2 separate regions of the Homo sapiens genome follow, and region 2 is linked to region 1. The links come from fine-mapping of genetic effects on gene expression. Tissue or cell type: fibroblasts. Region 1 holds a variant in brackets; the other region holds the start of a gene. All regions are shown on one strand. Distances are from middle to middle. Region 1 overlaps CFAP91 (cilia and flagella associated protein 91). Region 2 holds the start of GPR156 (G protein-coupled receptor 156).

Region 1 (11,504 bases):
TCTGTCTCTCTCTTTTTTGGAATTCTGATTTGTTTTGGTCATATTTCATTAACGACTTTTGCATTCATAATCATTGAAAGCAGCTATGCTCACCACTATACCACCAATGCTGCAATTGTAATCATGATATAGACCTGTAACTTTATTTTCTTATCTCTGTCAGATGATATGATTATACTGGTCTCTTAAAATGTGATGCAAACTGCTTCCTCTATATTTTCTGAAAGAGTTTGTATAAGATTGGCATTATCTCTTCCTTAAATGTTTGATGGAATTCACCACTGAAACCATCTGGGCCTGGATGTTTCTTTATGGGAATGTTTTTGATAACAAATTCAATTTACTTAATAGATACAAGGTTATATAGATTTTCTATTTATCATTGTATATTTTTTGGTAAATTCTGCTTCAAGGACTTTTTCCATTTCATCTAAGCTATCATATTTATTGTCATAAAGTTTTCAAAAATTCCTTTATTATCCTTTTAATGCCTGTAAGATCTATAGTGACATTCCCTCTTCCACTATAGTGATACCCCTCTTGTTCGTGATGTTGATAATTTGTGATTTCTCCTTTTTGACCAGTCTCTTCAAAGAATAAAATTTTGTTCTTGTCAATTTTCTCTATCATTTTAAGCTTTCTGTTTCATTAATTTCTGCTCTTGTGTATCTTAAAACATCTCTCCTACTACTTACTTTGGTTTTACTTTGCCTTTCTTCTGCATCTTCCTTAAGTGGGAACTTAGATAACTGGTTTTAAGCCTCTTTTCTAACATGAGTGCATATAGCTACCATTTCTCTGTAAGCACTGCTTTTGCTACATCCTACAAATTTTGAAGTTGTATTTTCTCAATCGTTCACATGTTATTTCTTCTTTGATCCAAAGGTTATTTAGAGATACACTGTTTAACTTCCAAATGTTTGGGGATTTTCTAAAAATATGTATCTGTTCCTGATTTCTAAGTTAGTTGTTTCTGTGGTCAGATAACATATTTTATAAGATTTCCATTGTTTGAAACATATAAAGATGTTTTGTGGCTCAAAATATGGCTTATCTTGATAAATGTTCCATGTACACTTGAAAAGAATATGTATTCTGCTGTGGTTGGGTATAGTGTTCTGATTAGTGTTAAGCAAAGGTATGTAGTTTTGTTAAAATCTTCTAAACTTTACTGATTTCTTGTCTAATTGTTCTATGCTATTGAAAAGAAGGTGTTAAGTCTTCAACTTTGGAGATTTGTTTACTTCTTTTTTTGTTAGTTTTGCTTTGTGAATTTTGAAGCTCAGTTATTAGGGGCATAAATGGATAAGACTATTTGGTTTTCATTTATTATTTTTATGAGATATCCTACTTTATCTTTGGTAATACTGCCTGCTTTGAAATTTTTTTTTTGCCAGCTGTAGTAATAGAACCAGTCTAGTTTTCTTATGCTAAATATTTTCCTGTTGTATCATTTTCCACCTATTTACTTTCATTATCACTGTTTTTATATTTAAAAGTGTCTCTTGTAAATCATATGCTTGGTTTTGCTTTTCTTCAAAACAATTTTAAGAAAAAAAAAACAAAACAAAAAACCATTTTGACACCTGTGCCTTTTATTTGGAGTGTTTAATACACTAATATTTAATGCATGTTAAAGTTGAGTTGAGGTGTATCATTTTGTGATTTATTTTCTATTTGTCCCAACTTGATTTTAGTCTTATGTTTCTCCTTTTTTTTCCTTTTTCTGGGTTAGTTTTTTCGTATTCTCAGTCAGCCAGGGGTATGTGGAAAACTTGTCTCAACCCTTCCAGGATCTCCCCATTAGCACTCTGGTTGGTTTGCTGCTCACCCCAACTGGGACTGCATCCTTGGGCTAACAAAGCTGTGGCCTTTCCCTATTCATTTCTGAGTTTGCTACTTTTAGTATATGCAAAGTCACAAAATTTCATGCCACTTCTCGACCCTAAATATTGAAATTTAAAACTTTATAAGTATTTCTCCTCTGGCAGAAGAGCCACTGGGTTTTTGGCCAACTCCAAACTGGAAAACTACGATTCTTGCTGATTGAGCTTGATGGGAGGTGGGGGAAAGAATTAGCCTTCTGCTGTTTCTCCTTGAATCTCTAGGAGCTTTTCAACTTGCTGCCCATCTCTAGTAGATTTCTAGTTCCCTGGATGCTTTTGTCAATTTTGTCCAGTTGTATGGTTTTTTTTTTTAGTGGAGGAGTATTGCTGACCTCTTCATTCTGACATAATTGAAAGCTGATTTTATAGATATGTTTTAATAAAATATCTTTAATTTTTATTAAAAATAAAAGAAACAGTGAAAAGAACATTTTTGCTTCTTCTCTGAAACTTCTGTTGGAGGTTTCTTAAGCTGTCGAATGTCTTTTGTACAAGGATAAATGGGATAAATTCCTTTTAGGATGTCATACAGAAGGCCTCTCCCTTCCTTTATGACTTACTTGGTTCCTTGATAATAACATTCACAAGTTGAATCACAAAAAGTTAAACGTTTATAAGGAATGAATGTTATAAATTAGAATTATGTCCTTGAAACTCATTTCATACCGTAATATGCCAAGACATAATAAATGATCTCTAAAACCACACACATGTTTACTTTTACAAACATTAAGTATGTAGAATTTCATTCAATAAATACCTACTAAGGGATTGATAGGTGCCAGAGACTGGACTGGCTAAGCACTGCAAATGAAAACAAATGAACTCACTAGGTACAGCTGCTGCCCTGCCCTCACACGCCAGTGAGAGAGACGATTACGCAGGAAATTACTATCAAGTGTGTTATTGAGGAAGTACCAAGTGTTATGACTATGTCCAGTATCAATGTTTTCTCACACATTTTTTTTCTTTGAAATTCTTTATGCTTTACAAAGAAAATATAATTAGAACCTGGACTGAAGACATATCTTCTGTAGTAAGTCTGAATGGTAAATGCTTGGAGAGGGACAATTTCCTTGGGAAACACGTCATCTATTCTCAATTTGGAATGTACATTAAATCACTTGGGAAACTTTAAAAAAAAAATCCGTTTGCTTGGGCTCCCCTTCTAAAGATTCTATCTTAATTGGCCCGAGGTGAAACCCAAGAAGCACTTTTTTTTTAAAGTACTCAGGTGGTTTTCGCATGCAGCCACAGCCAAGAACCACTGTAGTCCTCACTTCCAGTTTCCTCATGTGCCACCTATCATAAAAGGTGCCTCCTTCAAGATTGCAGCTAAGTTTTCTGGGAAGTTCTTCTGCGCAATACTTATGGCTTCCTTCTACTGCACTAATATCTGGTAGGGAGGGAGCCCTTATTCTCAACACCTCAAGTTTCTACAGAACATGAGGTACTCATTCCTATCCCTTTCTTGCTGGAGGGGTTAGGGGAGGGGCAGATGATAGCACATCCATATTCTCTCTGTCTCTTATTGTTCCCCAAATGAGACCGAGAAACTCATCTGATGGGTTAGAGACTGATATCCACTGCGCCACTGCCTATACAGTGGTAGGTGTGGTCGTTTTCCTTATAAGCAGGAAACATGCTCCACCTATTTCTCTTTTGTCCTTTATCCCTTTGTGATAGTAAAATTAGCTAACTGGTGCTTATTGGGTATTTACCGTGTGTTGCCTGCTAAGCTTTTTATATAAATTGATTCATTACATCCCGACATCAACCTCATGAGGTACAACCTATGGTTATACCATTTTACACATGAGGAGGCTAAGGCTTAAATAACCCAGGGATTAAATAACCTGTCTGACACACTGAACTTGGACTGTGATTTCAATCCGGACAGTCTGGGTCCAGAGCCTGCTCTCTTAACTTCCATGCTACTGATGGCAGTGGCCACATCAGACGGTCTGCCACTGCCATCACACTGGCTGCAGCAGGGAGGTGCAGCCAAGGCTGCACCCTCCATGGAGCTGGTGGGAGCTAGGGACAAGCAGGAGCCCCGCCCCTTCTGAGTTGGGGTGGGAGCTCCCCCGGTGCCACTGCAGCCACCCAAACCATGGCTGTAGACCCTGGCCTCCCACTCCACAGAGCAGGCAGGAGCCTTGCCCTCCCAGCAGGGCTTCAGCCACCCAACCGTGGCTGCAGATGTGAGCCTCCCTTTGCTCTTGGGGGACTGGGAGCAGGCAGGAGCCTGCTGCTGGGCACAGCTGCAGCTGCCCAAACTGTGGCTGCAGACTCAGGCATCCCTGAACTCTTGGGGGCCCTGGAATGTCCCCCTACCCTAACAGGCTTGCAAGTGCCTGCTCCTGCTGCCTGGCTTCTCCCCACTCCTGGTGCATGTTCTGATTGTGGAGCAAGGTTGGGGCCGAGCCAGGGCACTGTCACAGGCCAGCAGGGTGGGCGCACGTTCAGGGCAGTGCTGACATGCCAGCCCCCTGCTGCCTTGGCCCCCTCCTGTCTTTGGGCACTGAAGAGCACAGGAGGGAAGCTGAGGGGGTGCTGAGGGCAGCTCAGCACTGGCCTGCAGGCACCCCTTTGCAGGAAGAGCCTGGGTGCCATGAATGACAGGGGAGGCAGACAGCTCCTGGGCAGAAGGGGGCAGGGCCTCAGTGAAGTCCCACCTTCATGCCAAGAAGGCCTGAAGCCTGGGCGCCGGGCTGCCAGTCCTGCTGCCTGGAGGGGGAGCTTATATCCCTTTTTCCTGGGCCTGCCCATGGCTACCCATGGACCAATCAGCATGCACTTCCCCTCTCTGAAGATCAAAAAACCATGGACTCAGCCAGAGCAGAGGAGATGTCTGAATGACCAGTTGCAGAGAGGCGCTACCTTCTCTGCTGAGAGCTGAATACTCATCCTGATGACCTGCCTGCAGAGAGGAGCCACCCACTCCATTGCCTCCTTTTTGCTGAGAGCTGAACACTCGACCAGATGACCTGCCTACAAAGAGAAGCCACCCACTGTGGGTCTCCTCTGAGCTGTTGTAACACTCAATAAAGCTTCTCTTCATCTTGCTCACCCTCCACTTGTCTGCATACCTCATTCTTCCTGGACACAGGACAAGAACTCAGGCAAAGGCCCCACTGTCCACGGAGGTATCCAGCCAGAAAAGCAACACTCCAAAGATCCCATAACCCTACTATATTGCTAGGGTTCTAGCTGGCTTTTGTTCCACAATTGGTAAGCACAGTTGAAGGCCATTCACTCTAACTCAGGGGCTTGCTGGCATTCTCCACTCCCCTATTAACTGAGTCTATAATCCTCTGTGCAGTTTGTTGCATAAAATCACTCCAAGTATTTGTAAATACAACTCTACCCTCAAGTGGGTACCAGTGGCCTAGAACTGAGTAGGAGGATGGGAGTTAGCAGTGGAAGCTCCTCCTGAACTAACAATCAGGCTCTAACATAATTTGTCTGGGAGTTCTGCACTTCAGGAACTTAGAATTCCCAACAATTTTGTGCTAACAGTTTCGCATCCTAAAGAGATCCTTTACCCACACTGCACACTTTCCTTTTGGATTTTACCTTGCCTCAAGCTAAAGCACTGCCTCTCTTTACAATGATTCACTATATCTGATTACGCATCCATACAAAAAGTTTTCTGCCTCAGACAGTTCATTGTGATTTTGTATCGCTATTGATCGTACTAGTCTAGCCCCAATTCACTACATGGCTCCAGTCACTATGACCACTTGGCTTTAAATGTGTGTTTTTATTGTCACTATAGGTGTTTTATTTTCAAAAGCAAAAATTAGAAAAGTTGGAGCATTTTAACTCAAGCCATTATAAGTAAAAGATTGCCGGTATCAAGAAAAAGTTTTCCTCTCCTAGTAAACTTCAATTAGTCAATGAGAATTGTATAACAACTTGTATTTTCCTTGACTGTCTAAATGCAAAACATAGTTTTAGAAGTCTACATAAGGATAAAGATTTTTAAAGAAAATATCATATTTTAAGTTTCATTACACATGTCCTTTATTAGAAGCTACTTTAAATCCTTTTTCAAACATGAATTGATTTTAATTAAAATAAAATTTTACTGGAACACAGTCATGTGCATTCATTTCTGTGTCATCGAGTGCTGCTCTTACCCTACAACGGCAGAGTTGAGTATGCAGTTATGATGGCGACCATCAGACCCGCAAACCCTAATGTAGTTACCATCTGGCCCTTCAGAGAAAGTCTGCTGTTCCCAGCTGTATAGCATTCCCCTCCCACCTTCTATCCCATCAGCCCAACCTAACTCACTTGTCATTTTGTGTTCTCGATGGTTTATTTCAAAAGTGAATGATATAACCTTTACCTAGCTCAGGTTAGCCTTTTTCAAAGAACAAAACAAAATTTAGTTGCTTCCTTACTGGTGCAGTGTTTTTTGTCAGTGATCCTCAGGGGGAAAAAAAGGTGTCCCAATCCTAGTTTTGCTAGGGCAAGGTGAACCCTTTCAAGTTTGTATAATTAGTTTTTTTAAAAAAAAACTCAGAAAATTAATTATTAAACTCTGATTATTGTTTCTATTTTATTTGTTCTGGTTTCTTCTTCAAGAACTCCGATTGCTGTGGGATAGGTCATCTACAGCTAACTTCTGTCATTTTAATCTCTTTGCCCATTCCTTCCCATCCCATGTTGGATCACTTAATAAATGTGTTGCCAACATTATCAATTTTATTCTCTGCTGTGGTATTTCTGCCCTTTTCACTGCATCCAAATGAATGTGTAAATTTTGTTGCTGGATTTTAAATCTTTTTATATTTTTCCCATCTTAGCCCACTTCCTTTTCTTTTCAGCCTGCATCTATTTTTTGACCTTGTCTGTTATTATTTCCTACTTCAGTTTCTGAAAAGACCCTTTCTTTTTGACTCCTATTAAAAACACTCAGCAAATGTTTCTGCAATTTTCCTTGTTTCTTACAGTAAGATATTCTCTAACATAAGCTTTGTTTTCAGAGTAGCATACATTTTCCTCTATAAATTCATT[A/G]CTTGGACTCCATGTTGATGTTTTTGTTCATTTACTGTTTTCTTTTTTCCTATTTGACAGTCTTTGAATCAGGAAGAATCCTCCTGGAATCCTGATGCTTGTCAATACACAGGATGGGCAGATTGCCTTTCAATAGCACCATCTCTATGGCTGTTGCATGAACACACTTCTTAGATCTAAAGCTCAAAGGTGGGTTGATGTGCCACTGTAGAAGCAGACCAAAGTATAGTTTTCTGTTCCGATGGAGATGGACACTTGGGTTTCCAGTTTGGGACTATTGTGAACACCACTACTATAAATATTTTTGTCATGCCTGTTGGTGCACATACTCATGCATTTCTGTTGAATATATATCTAGGAGATAAAATCCTGAGTCATGGAATATGCACATTTTCAGCCTTAGTAGATAATGCCAATGTCCTGTGAATAGTGAACCAAAACTACTTGGAAAAATATTCCACAACATTTCCTTTTGTTTGATTCAACAAACCAGCACATCCTCATAGTTAACAAAATATTGAAATGAGACATAAGAAAATGTTCTCTTTAAGTAGGGCATCTAGAAGACACTGAAGAGAATGAAGCTTTTTCATTTGATTATTATTATTGAAAATCATTTTAAATTATTGGATGTTTAAGGAAAATAAATCTCCTTTCTCATGAATCACACACTGGCAAGTTTATGAGCAGTGCACACCTTGGGAGAAGTGCAGACTATTGGAATTATTTATGATGATTCGTACAGCTTCTTTTACAAAAAAATCACAATCTGTAAAAAAGAGCAAAACAAATGTTTATGATTATGTCATCTTTTAGAAACATTATCAGATCAATACATGCAAAAAATTCCTGTGATACAGTGTGTCTGAGCCCTAGCTTTGAACTCAGACAGCCCCACACATATCCCAGCTCTGCTATTTATAAGCCTTATGGATCCAGATGTTTCTTACTTCACAGTGTGTCAGTTTCCAAATTCTAGCACTTAAAAAAATCTGTACATTAACTGGGTTGTATACATACATCATAAAAAAATAAAAATACAAAAGAATGTCAACATGAGAAAGGTAAATCTCTTTTCCCCTGGTGTGAACTCCAGTCCCCAGTTTCCATGCCTGGCAACAGCTACCTACCAACTTCTTATTGACCTTTCCAGAAATATTCTCTGTATACTGCAGGCATAATGTATATATATATATGTATTTGTTTGTATATATACATATGTATTTCTAACTTTTAAAAAACCATGTATGCCTTTATTTCATTACTTGCCCAAATATTACTGGACCATAAACAGAATAGTCAGACATGTACAATAATAACTAAGCTTACCATCTTTGGTTCTTGCCATCTTTCAATTACATAAAGCCCATAGCTGCTTACCCGTTTTTCAATGTTATCATCTCAAAGATATGTTTGTGAAAGTAGGTGGGTAGAATAAATTTTATATAACAGTATGTTAGCCTAATTTACAACTTTATATATTTTCATATGATATGATGCTTCAATTCATCCTCTTGACCTGGGTCTTGCAAATACCAGGAGCAGCCCTGCTTATGAATGTCCTGAAGAGCAGTTATCCATGGAACAATTGTTTGGGAAAAGTTGATATGTAGACACTGGAGGTCATAAATACCGTTTCTGATTCTCTTTCCATTTTACTTTGACTTACTGCCAACATCCTTTACTATTTCATTTATTTACTTTAAACTGACAAAGAAAGATTATATATATTTGTCAGGTACAGCATGATGGTTTGAAATACGTGCACGTTGTAGAATGGCTCAGTCAAGCTAATTAACATATGCACTACTTCATATACTTTTCATTTTTTGTGGAAAGGGTGCTTAAAATCTCTCTTTGCTATTTTCAAAATATAACACATTGTTATTAAATATAGTCACCACGGTTTTACAATGCATCCCTTGAACTTACTCTTCCTAACAGAAATTTTGTATCCTTTGACCAACATCTCCCTACCACACTAGCTTCTGGCAACCAACATTCTACTCTTTACTTCTATGAATTCAACTTTTTTCTACTCTACATGCAAGTGATAGCATATGTGTATGTGTGTGGATGCATTACACCTGGTTCATGGCATTATGCTGGTATTTCTGTGCCTGGCTTATTTCACCTAGCATAATGCCCTCCAGGTTCAGACATGTTGCTGCAAATGACAGGATTTCCTTCTTTTTTTTTTTAAGGCTGAATAGTATTCAATTGTGTGTATACCATCATCTGTTGGTGGACACTTAGGTTGATTTCAAATCTTGGCTATTGTGATTAATGCTGCAGTGAACATGGGAGTGCAGATATCTCTTTCACACACTGATTTCATTACCTTTGGATATACACCCAGTTGTGGAATTGCTGGATCATATGGTAGTTCTATTTTTTATTTTTTGAGGACCTCCATAATGTTTTCCACAATGGCTGTACTAATTTACATTCCCACCAACAATGTGCAACGGTTCTCTTTTCTTCACATCCTCCTCAACACTTACTTTTTGTCTTTTTGATAATAGCCATTCTAACAGTATGAGGTGATATCACATTGTGGCTTTTGTTTGCATTTCTCGAACGATTAGTAATGTTGGGCATTTTTTTCATGTATCTGTTGGCCATTTGTATGTGTCTTCTTTTGAGAAATGTCTATTCAGGTCCTTTGCCCATTTTTTAATTGGGTTATTTATTTTCTTGCTAATGAGTTGTTTGAGTTCCTCACATATTTTGAATATTAACCTCTTACCAGATGTATGGTTTGTACATATTTTCTCCCACTTAGCAGGTTGTCTCTTCACTCTGTTTATTGTTTTTTGCTGTGCTGAAACTTTTTAGTTAGATGTAATCTCTTTTGTCTATTTTCACTTTTGTTGCCTGTGCTTTTGAGTCATATCCAAAAGATCACCATCCAGACCAATGTTAGGAGCTTTTCCCTTATGTTTTCTTCTCGCAGTTTTACAGTATCAGGACTTATGCTTAAGTATTTAATCCATTTTGAGTTGGGTTTTGAATATGGTGTGGAGAAAAGGTTCTAATTTCATTCTTCTGTATGTAGATATCCAGTTTTCTCAGCATCATTTATTGAAAAGACTGTCCTTTTCCCATTGTGTGTTCTTGGCACCTCTGTCAAAAATCAATTGACCACAAATCTGTGGGTGCATTTCTGGGCTCTCTATTACATTCCATTGGTCTGTGTGTGTAGTACCATGCTGTTTTGATTAGCATAGCTTTGCAGTAGATTTTTAAGTCAGGTAGTGTGATGGCTTTGTTCTTTTTGCTTCAAGATTGTTTTAGCTATTTGGGGTCTTTCATGGTTCCATATGAATTTTAGGATTGCCTTTTCTATTTCTGTGAAAAATGTCATTGGAATTTTGATAGAGATTGCATTGAATCTGTAGATTGCTTTAAGTAGCATGGATGTTTAAACAATATTAATTCTTCCAATCCATGAACACAGGATATCTTTTCATTTAATTGTGTCTTCTTTAATTTCTTTCATCAATGTTTGATAGTTTTCAATGTACAGGTCTCCTTGATTCAATTTACTCCTAAGTAAGTATTTTATTTTTTTCCTTGTAGCTATTATAAATGGGATTGTTTTCTTGATTTCTTTTTTGTATAGTTTGTTGTTAATGTATAGAAATGCTACTGATTTTTGTATGTTGATTTTGTACCCGTAAATTAATTACTTTATCATTTCTATTAGTTTTTTTGTTGGAGTCTTTAGGGTTTTCTATATATAAGACCATGTCACCTGCAAAGAAAAACAATTTAACTTCTTCCTTTCCAATTTGGGTGCCTTTTATTTCTTTCTCTTGCCCAACTGTGCTGGCTGAGACTTCCAGTACTATGTTGAATAGAAGTAGCAAGAGTGGAGCATCCTTGTCTGTTTCTGATCATAGAAGAAAAGGCTTCAACTTTTTACTGTTGAGAATGATGTTAGTTGTGGGTTTGTCATATATGGACTTTACTATGTTGAGGTACATTTGTTCTATAATGAATCTGTTAAGAGTTTTTTTTGTCATGAAAGAATATTGAATTTGTCAAATTTTTTTTCTGAATCTATTGATAAGATCATGTGATTTTTGTCCTTTATTCTGTTAATATGGTATATCACATTTATAGATTTGTGTATGTTGAGCCATTCTTGCATCTGTAGGATGAATCCCACTTGATCATAGTGAAAGATCCTTTTAATTTGTTGAATTTAGTTTGTTACTTTTTTTGAGAATTTTTGCATCCACGTTAATCAGGGATATTGGCCTGTAATTTTTCTTTCTTGTAGTATCCTTGTCTAGTTTTGAAACAAGAGTAATGCTAACCTTGTAAAATGAGTTTGGAAGTATTCCCTCCTCTTCAATTTTTTTGGAAGACTGAAATTTAAACATTTGGTAGGATTCAGCAGTGAAGCCATTGGGTCCTGCCTGGGATTTTCTTTGATGAGAGTCTTTTCATTACTGATTCAATCTTCTTACTTATTATTGGTCTATTCTGATTTTCTATTTTCTTCATGGTTCAATCTTGATAGGTTGCATGTGTCTAGACATCCATTTCTTCTAGATTGTCCAAATTGTTGGTATATAATTG
Region 2 (11,504 bases), 520 kb before region 1:
TGTGTTTGGAGTTTCTTCCTTCTGGTGGGTTCGTGGTCTCGCTGGCTCAGTAGTGAAGCTGCAGACCTTCGCGGTGAGTGTTACAGCTCTTAAGGTGGTGTGTCTGGAGTTGTTTGTTCCTCCCGGTGGGTTCGTGGTCTCGATGGCTTCAGGAGTGAAGCTGGAGACCTTCGCCGTGAATGTTACAGCTCATAAAGGCAGTGTGGACCCAAAGAGTGAGCACCAGCAAGATTTATTGCAATGAGCGAAAGAACAAAGCTTCCACAGTGCGGAAGGGGACGCGAGTGGATTGCCACTGCTGGCTCGGGCAGCCTGCTTTTATTCCCTTATCTGGCCCCACCCACATCCTGCTGATTGGTCCATTTTACAGAGAGCCAATTGGTCCATTTTACAGACAGCTGATTGGTCCGTTTTGACAGGGTGCTGATTGGTGCGTTTACAATCCCTGAGCTAGACACAAAAGTTCTCCATGTCCCCACTAGGTCAGCTAGATACAGAGTGTTGATTGGTGTATTTACAAACGCTGAGCTAGACACAGAGTGCTGATTGGTGCATTTACAAACCTTGAGCTAGATACAGAATGCCGACTGGTGCATTCACAATCCCTTAGCTAGACATAAAGATTCTCCAAGTCCCCACCAGATTAGCTAGATACAGAGTGCCGACTGGTGCATTCACAAAGCTTGAGCTAGACACAGGGTGCTGATTGGTGTGTTTACAAACCTTGAGCTAGATACAGAGTGCTGATTGGTGTATTTACAATCCCTTAGCTAGACATAAAGATGCTCCAAGACCCCACCAGACTCAGGAGCCCAGCTGGCTTCACCCAGTGGATCCCACACTGGGGCCACAGGTGGAGCTGCCTGCCAGTCCTGTGCTGTGTGCCCGCACTCCTCAGCCCTTGGGCGGTCAATGGGACTGGGTGTCGTGGAGCAGGGGGTGGCGCTCACTGAGCAGCCCACGGCAGGGGTGGGCGGGGGGAAGGCTCAGGCATGGCAGGCTGCAGGTCCTGAGCCCTGCCCTGCGGTGGGGCAGCTAAGGCCTGGTGAGAAATTGAGCACAGCAGCTGCTGGCTCAGGTGCTGAGCCCCTCACTGCCTGGGGCCAGTGGGGCCGGCCGGCTGGCTGCTCCGAGTGCGGGGCTGCAGAGCCCACGCCCACCTGGAACTTGCGCTGGCACGCAAGTGCCATGGGGGCCAGCCCCAGTTCCCGCCTGTGCCTCTCCCTCCACACCTCCCCGCAAGCTGAGGGAGCTGGCTCTGGCCTTGGCCAGTCCAGAAAGGGGCTCCCACAGTGCAGCGGCAGGCTGAAGGGCTCCTCAAGCACAGCCAGAGTGGGAACCAAGGCCGAGGAGGCTCCGAGAGCGAGCGAGGGCTGTGAGGGTTGCCAGCATGCTGTCACCTCTCACCACCACACCTGGTTAATTTTTGTATTTTTAGTAGGGATGGGGTTTCACCATATTAGCCAGTCTGGTCTCGAACTCCTGACCTCAGGTGATCTGCCCACCTCAGCCTCCCAAAATGCTGGGATTACAGGCGTGAGCCACTGCACCTGGCCCACATTGTGAAATTCTTGTATTGTGTTATTCAGCTCTGTCAGACCAATTAGGTTCTTTTTCATACTGGCTATTTCATCCTTCAGCACCTGTATTACTTTATTGTAATTCTTATTTTCCTTGGATTGGGTTTTGCCATCTTCCTGAATCTTGATGATCTCTTTGTTCCTATCCATATTTTGCATTCTATTTCTGTTATTCCAGCCAGTTCAGCCTGGTTAAGAACTCTTGCTGGAGAACTGGTGTGATCGTTTGGAGGACGTATGATACTCTGGCCATTTGAGTAACCAGAGTTCTTGCATTGGTTCTTTCTCATCTCTGTGTGTGGGTGTTCATTTGACTGCAACGTAGATTGACTACAGTCAACAGACTTCTTTTTTGGATGTTTTCACTGTGCTGAGGCTTTCTATAGGGTCTTTATTTGAAGCTGACTTCTTGTCTCTGGTTTCAGAGGTGTGTATGTTAGTGAAATATTTTTCGTGTTGAAGCTTTGGGGTGTGATCCTGCAGGTGACACTTAGGCTTATTGGTCAATTGGTAGACTCCTGCTCCTGTATGTTTCTTCACAGTTGCAGCTGTGTTCCCTCTCAGTGCTCCGAAAGTGTGGGTTCCTCTCCCCCTTGAGTGCTGGCTGTAGTTCACGACTTAGCACCCCTGGACTGCCCACTGCAGCTCTGGAGTGATCTGTGTTTATGTTCCTTCCCCAGCTTAGAAGTAGCAGAGGCTCATCTTAGTAGGTGCTGTGGCCGAGAGTCATTTGCTTGACTCCTGGGGGCTCTACCCCCAGAAAAATGCAGGTTACCAATTGCTCAGTGCAATCAGCCCAAGAAGGAGGGTTCGTGCTTTGGACCCAAGCCAGGGGTTGCCTGTCCAGTGAGCAGTGTGGAACACATGGGAGATGGACTGGTCTCCTTTCCTTGGGTCTACTGCAGCTTGTTGGTATGGAAAAGGCACTTAGGGTCTTTGCTCCTTCTTTAGTCCAAGGGTGGCAAGGGGAGTTCCACAGCAGAGGCAGTGGCTAAGACCCTTTCAATTGCCCCTGGAGGCACTGTCCTGGAAGTCGCTGAGTTGGTATTGGCTGGATAGCTCTGGTGGGGAGTGGCTGGAGGCCGAGGCCTGGAGGACCTGCCAGTGAGGAGATATGGGAATAGGCACCCATGAAACAGTCTGGCCACTTTTCTACAGGGCTGCTCTGGTATGCTTAGGGCCTGCTCCAGTCCCTAGTCACCTCAGATTTTCCAGAACTTGGAGGTGTCACCAGTGAAGGTTATGATACAGCAAATATGGCAGCCTGTCCCTCCCCCTGGGAGCTTTGTCCCAGGGAGGTATGGACCTGTTGCTGGCCCAAAGGCACCTGTAGGAAGTGGCTGAAGACCCTGGTTGGGAGGTCCCACCTAATGAAGAGGAACAGGATGGGGCACACTTAAAAAAGCAGTCTGGCCACATTTCTGTATAGCAGCTGTGCTGTGCTGGGGGTCCACTTCAGCTCCTGGTCACCTCAGACACTCTACAACCCAAAGGCTGGAAGAGCTAAGTCAGCCAAACAGCAAAGATGGCAGCCCATCCCTCCCTCTAAGAGTGCCATCCCAGGGGGAATTCAGATCTCTGTCACAGCTGAAGAGCTCAGGCAGGGTGGCTGGAGGCCCTGGTTGGGAGGTCACACCCAGTGAGTAGGAATGGGATTGGGCACCCACTTAAAGCAGCAGTCTGGCCACATTTTGGTAGAGCAGCTGTGCTGTGCTGGGGCATCCTTACCGCCCCAGGTCGTCTCAGACTCTCCAAACCCTGAAGGCTGGAACAGCTAAAGCTCCTGAACAGCAAAGATGTTGGCCTACCCCTCCCCTGGGAGCTCCTACTTAGGCAGGTGCTATGTTGCTACTGGTAGCTGGGTGGAATTCCAAGCCAGTGGGTCCTGTCTTGTGTGAGGTGTTGTGGAAGTGGGCCCTGCGGGCTGTTGCTGCTCAGCCCTCTGGATTCAGCCTCTTTCTTAGGGGTATGAATGGGAGTCTAAACTCCCTCTTTGTGGGAGATGCAGCTACTTTTGCCAGAACGCCCAAGTATCTAAGCCTCCAGGGTCTCCACGCATGCCTGAGTGGCTGCTTTGCTGAGACTCCATGTAGCCCTGTCTGCCAGACTGAAGACTGAAGGCCCTGCTGCTAGTGGAGTGGATTCACAAGGAGATCTCCTGACAGGAGGGTTGCAAAGATCTGTGGGAGAAGCATGGTTTCCGGGGTCGCTCATTCACTTACCACTTCCCTGGGCAGGGGAAGATCCCCTGGTTCCCTGTTGCTCCCAGGTGGGCTGTTGTCCTGTCTTGCTTTTCCTTGTTCTCTGTGGGTCAGGTTGTTTCCTTGATTAATCCCAATGCGAGTACCCGGATGTTTCAGTTGAAGGTGTTGTATCTACTCGTCCCTTCTGTTCCTCTCCGTGAGAGCCATGTACATTACCTGCTTCTGGTCAGCCATCTTGGCCACTCCCCATCCTTATGAAAGTTTACACTGTATTACAATTGCACAGGAAAGTTACTGCAGGTTTGGGAGTGGGACAGAGGATAGAGGATGTTGGCTTGTTTTGTCAAGAGAGTGACATTCTTAAGTCTATGTTGGTGGTGGGGACAGATAGGAGGCAAGAAAATCAGTTAGGAAATTATTGAAACAATTCAGCCCCAGATAATCGAAGCTTATCAAGAGCAGCAGTGTGAGAATGCAGAGAAGTGGACAGTTGCCAGAAACATCTCAGAGGTAAACATGGCAGGCCTGGAAGATGAAAACCTTCAGTGCCTGGCAACTGAGGGGTTGGAAATACTCCAATCTCAGAAAAGAGAATACTGGGATTGGAGGTGGGGGCCAAGCTGGGAGAAAGATTTCAATGTCTTGCAGAATATAGAGAGGGGTTGATGAGAATAACAGCCGAAGAGCCCAGGGGAATTCCCAGGTTAAAAAAAAAAAGCCCCACAGAGATCAGAAGGGCAAATCCTCAATCTAGAGCCACAGAAGTGAAGATTTGGCTCTAGACTCTGAAGTCAGCTCTCCTACGGAAAAAAGATGGACCCAGGCCTTTTTAACTCAGGCAGCCCCCATGGAGGAGAGAGATGGTCCTCCTCAGTTTCTGCACGTTCCAAATGAAAGGGTCCTTCTGTGTAGAATGAGAGATCTGGAGAGTCCTGGGTAAAATCTCAGACATAATTCTTTCTTCTGAGAAACCAGCTTTTTGCTTACTGCCTTGAGGAAAACCTTGTCTATCTTTCTTTCTTCCTCTTGTTTTCCCCCTCAGTAGAATCCTGTGAAAAGAAGTCTTTGGGTATCACAATGTGTAAAACAGTTAAGAATGTAGCCACTGTCTTGTCACAGTGGGGTCTGCGGACCTGGCCTCTCTCTTCCCGTCCTCTACAACCAAAGATTTCCTCTGCGCAGTTGTAAAAATGTGGAATGTCCTAATGCACATAAATAGGTCTGAGATTTTAAAATAAATGAAACAAATATAATATGGAAAGTCTAAGTGGATTCCCAAGACCATTTCCAGGTCTCCCCTCTATGTTTCTCCTTGAGGGTGTCTTAAACACAACATCTCACACATATTTTTAAGCGGAAGACAGTGGGCTGGGTGCGAACATCTTGTTTGTGGCCTCCTGTAAGCATTCTTGGAAAAAGAAACGTACTTGTCTTTCTGATTATAAAATAAGCAAAAGCTCAACGTAAAGAATTTGGCAACTCCAGAGAGTATAAAATAAGAAAACTAATTGGTAACTCCGACGCCACTCCAGAAATAAAAATGAGCATTCGCGGAGAATCCTTCCAGTCTCCTTACCGAGGCCGGCTAGGGACCTGAATCTGAAGCTCCTCGCCCCGGGGCCAGCTCCTGCGGCAGCCGCTGGCTCGAGGCCCGGGAAGGGGCGCTGAGGGGAAGGCGCCCCCCAGGGAAGGTCTCTGAGGAGACGGCCGGAGGCGGGGCCGCCCCAGGGGACTCGGCGGCGACGCAAGGAGAAAGATCCGAGGAGCTGGAGGAGCCGTGAGGCGCGTGGAGTCTGCAAGGTCCCGGAGCCCTCCCGGCCCTCGCGGGAGAGCAGGGTCGAGGCGCGCCACGCGGGCGGCGCCAGGGAGGGGCGGGCAGGCGTGGCTCAGCCAGTGCCCCGGCCAGAGGCGCCCGGCGCCCCGCGCACACCTCAGAGGCCTGCGCCGCCGTCCCGCCGCCTCCACGCCAGGCTCCCGGCGCGGCGATGGGCGCGGGCCCCTGTCTCTGCCCCGGCCCGCCCCTTCCCGCCCCTTCCAGCCCCGCGAACGCGCGAGACGCCGGGGGACCGTGGGCGTCCTGCACATAGCAGCGGGCTTGGCGCTTCTCGGCGGTCCGACGCTGATGAGGTGAGCACAGCGACCTTAAGGATCCACAAAACTTCAAACACTTAATTATTAAGTGAAAGTGGAAAGGGGGAGGGGCTTTCTCTCCCTTTCCAGAATCTGGGCAGTTTGTTTGGAACCGGTAAAGAAACTCTCATAGGAACTTGAGGTGAGCAGGGGTCACGCATCAGGGATGCGAGTGGCAATTTCAGTGGAAGAGACGGGAGAGTACTGTAATTTGGTGTGAAGATGGGGCCGTGGGTTTTCTGCTGAATAAGCGACCGGCTGTGCTGAAAATGAGAGATCCCGAAACAGTTTCCCACCGCCTGTAGACTTTCCAGAGTCTCCTCACGCCGAATCTGCTTTGCAGGGCATGTTCACCCCCAGGGTGTAGAGTGGCGGGCACGATGGGCTCCCCCATGGAGATTGCAAAGTCCTGAAAAGGGACAATTGTATTGCACTGCGTCTGTTGAACTGCCTTGCTTCTGGGCATGAGGGAGTCACCTGGAAGCTGCAACATCCTTGTACCCTGGCAAGCAGCCCTTTCCAAGTTAGCTCTGTCAGAAACTAGAGGCCTCTAGGTAGAACTCAAGGTATCCATGTACTCGTGAAGAATACAAACCTTGAGGTTTTTAAAATCGAATTTTGTTAAGATTTCAGGATAGAAATCTGGGAAGAGAAGTCATGGCATGGCATAACTTACCCCTTTGTTAGTTTTCTAGGTACATGCATGCTTGAATTAGAGGTAAATGATGCCCTAGCCTATCATAAAATGTCTTTCCTGGTGTAGTTCTTTAAACCAGAATATGGAGGATAACATTACATTTTTGCATCCTAGATAAAAGGGAAAGATTTTCAGATGGGGCTTACACAGCGGGAGAAATTGTTGATATAGTTGTATTAGGCAGCAAGGCCTGCAAAGAAAAACTTCTTTTTCTCCACCAGTGGCTGAATTCTGCACAGAATGTCTCCTCGCAGTCTGGGTAGCAGCCCGGCTTGCAAAAACAGTGCTTCTTTCATTGCTGCAGGTGGGGCAAATGCGCTTGCGGATAAATGGCTGGGGAAGCGTTTGCTTACAGGTTAAGGCAATTTGAGTCTGGAGAATAAAGTGCTTTAGCAGGCTGTGCTTGAGTTAGGTGTCCCTTGTGAGGAATAGAGGTGGCTTTCTGGTCCCCATTTTGCCAGCCTAATTCCCCTTCAGGGACACTACTGTCTCTGGAATGTTCCCTCTGTTTCCCCTTCTCTTCCACCCCCAGCTTTTAGCTTCTCCCCATTCCCCAGTAAAGTCTAGAATTGAGCCTGGTCAGAGTCAAAGTTCTGATAGCCTAGGGATATAGAACTTCAAGCCTGGTGAAGGCAGAAATGAGACCTAGGAGAGACCCAAGATGGGTGAGATGAAACAACTTTCAGCCTAGAAGGCTCTCAAAAGAGTGGAAAAATAATGATTGAGGGAAACAGATTCTCTGGAAAGGAGAATAGGTGCTTAAGTGTTTGTTTTCAGCTGAGGGTTTTAATATTTCCATTTTTGTTGTTTAACCATAAGGGAATTTCCATTATAGGGTAGGAGGAGGATGAGGCCTTCTCTGAAAACTGCATCCTTCTCCTTGAATTTGCATTTTATTCCATTCTTATGTAGGTTTCAGAGATTAATTGGGGGAAGGGGGAGAGAGGAAAGAAGCCAGAGGCTCTGACATGCTGCAGAAACAGTGCAACGTGGACTGACTTGGGCTGCAAAGGTGGATTTGGGGGTTGAAAGAAATGTTCTACATTTAGTTGAAAAAAAAAAATCAGAGCCTTTATTTTGCAAAGGTCTTGAGAATCAGAACATTCATGTTTAGTTGCTGATGAATTTTGCCTGATAAAGGATGCAAATCACTATCTCACCTTTTTTTCTCCAGTACTTTATTATGAAAAATTTTAGACATACAGAGATGTTTTCTACCTCTCATTTTATAAACTTATTATCTTAAAACAAACTTGTTAATAAAAATCAGTGTTTAGAATCCAGACATATGTGATCTGGTCCTGGACAGAGCTTGAATCAGAAGGTGTTTCAAATATAGATGTGTGAAGGATATTAACATTTTAAGAAAAAAATATGGATCTTATTCTTCTGACTTTCCCATAAGAATCTTGAGCAGACCCCTTAACTGCCTTCTTTTTCCCATTCTTAAAATGTCAGTCAGTTGGATGATATTACTCTCCTGCTTAACACCCTCCAATGGCTTCCCCTCACACTGTGAATAACATTCAACTCTCCACCAGGGCTTGTGATTTGGTCTGGTGCCCTCATATTCTATGGCCGTCCTCTTGCTTACCATCGTCCTTGCTCTTCCCTCTGCCTGAACACTCTTCCTTCAGACACTGCCACTGCTTCTTTTCTCAGCTCATTCCAGTTTCTTTTCATACTCTCCAGAATGATGGCCACCTGATCTAAAACAGCCTGTGGTCACTCCCTGTCTTCTGACCCTGCTTTATCCTTCTTCATGGCACTTAGCACTCCCTGACACTATATAGTATATGTGTTTCCTTGTTAATTGGGCATGTTCCCCACTCTAATGTAAACTCCATCAAGACAAGGAATTTTTTTGTCTTATTTATGGCTGTGTTCCTATTTGGTATATTATGAGCAATTAATAAATAACTGTTGGATTAATTAGGTAACTAAATTACACAAATAAGGCATTGACTCCCATAAGGGTGGCAGAACCCTTGGTAAAATACTAGAAGTCCTTTGAGGTAATTCATAATTCAAGTTAATCAATATTTGATAGGTAAATGATGACCCTGGAGATCAGTGGCCTCTTTTATCCTCACAGCACTTCTCAGCTGAATCCTATGCTAATAGCTGGCCAGTTTTGACAAACCCACATCCCAAACAAGACATAAAATATTTCAGTCACAGAACTTTTCCTCACGTCTCTTTCTAGTCACCTCCACCCCACAGAAGCAGCAAACCTTGTTCTGATTTCTAATATCATAGATTAGTGTTGCTGGTTCCTGAATTTCATATAACTGCAGTTACACAGTATGCACTCTTGTGTTTGGCTTCTTTTTGCCCTACACAATGTCTGTGATATTCATCTGTGCCATTGTGTGTATCAGTAGTTCATTTCTTTTTTTTCCAAGGTAGTATTTATTGTATGAATATTGACCATGTGTTTATCTGTTCTCTTGTTGATAGATACTTGGTTGTTGCCAGTTTGTGGCAATTTTGAACAAAGCTGCTGTGAACCTATAAAGGGTCTGCCTCATCTTGAGTCTTCTCTACTTTATATGAAAATCTTCCTTGTGCCACCAATGCAGAGAGAAGTATGGCAAGGTTATGGGGGCTGTGACTGATGTAGCAGCTTGCATGTACCCCAGCCAGTGCTCTCTCTAGACAGCTCTGCTGGGAGCTGACCTGCTTCCCACTTTAGAGGGAAAGCACTTGGAAAATGAGTGTCTAACAAATTAGCGAGCCCTCCAGTGCACTCTTAAGTGCTTTAAATCCTTGAAAGAGACACTGTGGAATGCCTGCTGCCATCACTGTTGTATTTCCCTCCTCCTCTCAGCTTCCCCATCCCAGCACAAGTTGACTCTAATCAGCTTCTGAGCATTATGCTACTGAGGGGTTTAAACATTCATGAGCAAGAGTCTTGTTCAGAGCCTGATAAAATATTCATGTGTTTCCATGGGGCATTGGTTTCCATCTAGACTTCTCAAGGCATTTTTCTGAGATGCATGTCGTAATTGTGAAGAACTCAGACAGTGATGGATGATACGGCCCTGTGTTATTAAACCCTACCACACAGAGCACCTTGCTTTCTAGGGATGGAGAAGAATGAGCACACAGAAAAATTGACATTAATCCTGTCTAGATCAAGAGAAAGGCTACATGTACTGATAAAAATGGCTTGAGTAAAGAGGGGCCTGTTAATATAGTACCAACAAAGGTATGAATCCATAGAGGAGAGTGAAAAGAACTTGTTAAAATGAGAGGAATGCTGGGATGCAGTCATTCCAAGTGGAAGAATGGGGGAATCAGCATTGTAAAATGCACAGTTCCTTTGACACTCATGTGGACGAGGTTCATATGAGACAACTGTGCTGAGTGCTGTAATTATCACAACCTGCTATGAGAGGATGAGAGTAGAAGTGGAGGCTAGGCAGGGTTTCCAAGTAGAGCCAGAGAGCTATTCCAAGAGGAGTCAACATTTCTCTTCAAGGAAGAAGTGGCTTTGAGTCAGGTTCTGAAGGAGGTGTGCCTCTTTGACTGGCAGCTGCGGTGTGGAAGGGACTTTCCAGAGAGACAGAATAGCATGATAGAGTGAGGGCCAAAGTGCCGGTGTGGTGTGAGTAAGGAGAGAAGGTGGGTGGATGGGGGTCAGGGCAGGGTTGCAGCAAGACATAAAGCAGGAGAGCTAAAGGCCAGCTTATGAAGGCCACAGGAGGATGGACTTCAGTCTGTTTGCTGGAGGGCCGTGTAACTTTTGGCCAGAGATTGGGTTACATTTTGAGGAGTTCTTGGGAAGTATATCCACCCTAGGCAAGGCCTTGAGGTATGTTTATGTCCAAGGCATTTCCAGAATATTCTGCTGTGTCCAGAACACTATGAAGACTCTACGTGGTCTACTCTAAGAGAGGTAAACCAGAGGAGGTCAGATATACTCAGTATACTCCTGGGACTGACCAGAAACAGGCCTCACCAGGCACCTCTCTGCCCCCAGCACACAAACACTCAGAATATTCTGAGTCAGATTGAATCCACAGCATTCCCTAGACTTCTTCATGACCACTTTGCCTCAGCTGGGGGAGTTGCAATGATCTAAGTATCCCCTTATCACCTGAATCTGGGCCAGGATACCTCAGACATGGGTTGCCAGGCAACTGAGGGCTAAGTGATGCAGCTGGCCAATCATCCCCACAAAGCCCAGGTCTGCTTTGACCAGGCCATCGGGCTGTGACCAGAGAGGCAACTTGGGGGGTTGAGGTCATGCAGACTGATGACTTGTGGACACAACTGCCAGGCCCCTTCCATATGTCTTCTTCCTTTGGGTTGCAGATTTCTATTCAAAAATGCCTCAGGATGTTGATTTTTTAACCCATAATAAAAATAGTGAAGTAGGGAGGAGTGTTAAACATGTCAGTCATCTATACCTTATGTTGTCATTGGGAAGAAATAACTGTGGAAACAATTGTCCCGGGAAAGTCAGTCTTCAGTCTTGCAGTGAGGAGCTTTGCATATGTGGAGATTAGCTAGAAAGCTCTGGAGTTCTGATGGTGAGAAGGGATTTCTTGGGTCAAGGATAGGAAAGGGCAAGGGAGGACCTTCATGATTCTCCCCAGGGCTTTGCTGGTTGGAATTGCTCTTCTGCTGCCATGGGTAGCATGGGGTTTCAGTGACTGAAAACACCCAGGAAAGTATGCTCTGGGTCTTCATGTTGCCATCTGCCTACACTGGAATGTCAGACCATCAGTCAGCACTGCCAGCTCTCCATCTTGATTTTCTAAGAGTTATTGAGAAAACCTTGAAAGGGAAGGCAGAAGTGGGTGTCTTAACTAGGGAAATGCCAAGGTCCTAAAGGTGTGGTCTAGGTTGAAGGTGTGGTAAGGGCCTGAAGTCATTGGTCTGGCA

Evidence for each region. PIP is the estimated chance that this variant, and not a neighbour inherited with it, causes the effect.
Region 2: it holds the start of GPR156, and the variant in region 1 is the best candidate, but not a certain one, in a credible set for the expression of GPR156 in fibroblasts (GTEx, PIP 0.81).

The regions. Positions count from the first base shown.
Region 1 is chr3:119,761,231-119,772,734 of GRCh38, reverse strand. It overlaps CFAP91 (cilia and flagella associated protein 91), which reads right to left. Exons shown (of 18, transcript NM_033364.4): 18 at 5,633-7,683. Among named protein-coding and RNA genes, the nearest start is that of NR1I2, 15 kb to the left of the region's middle. The variant A/G (reference allele first, on the strand shown) is at 6,915.
Region 2 is chr3:120,279,436-120,290,939 of GRCh38, reverse strand. GPR156 (G protein-coupled receptor 156) reads left to right here and starts at 5,718. Exons shown (of 10, transcript NM_153002.3): 1 at 5,718-5,911. It overlaps LOC124909418 (a long non-coding RNA gene), which reads right to left and starts at 5,784. Exons shown (of 2, transcript XR_007096029.1): 1 at 3,803-5,784; 2 at 217-2,678.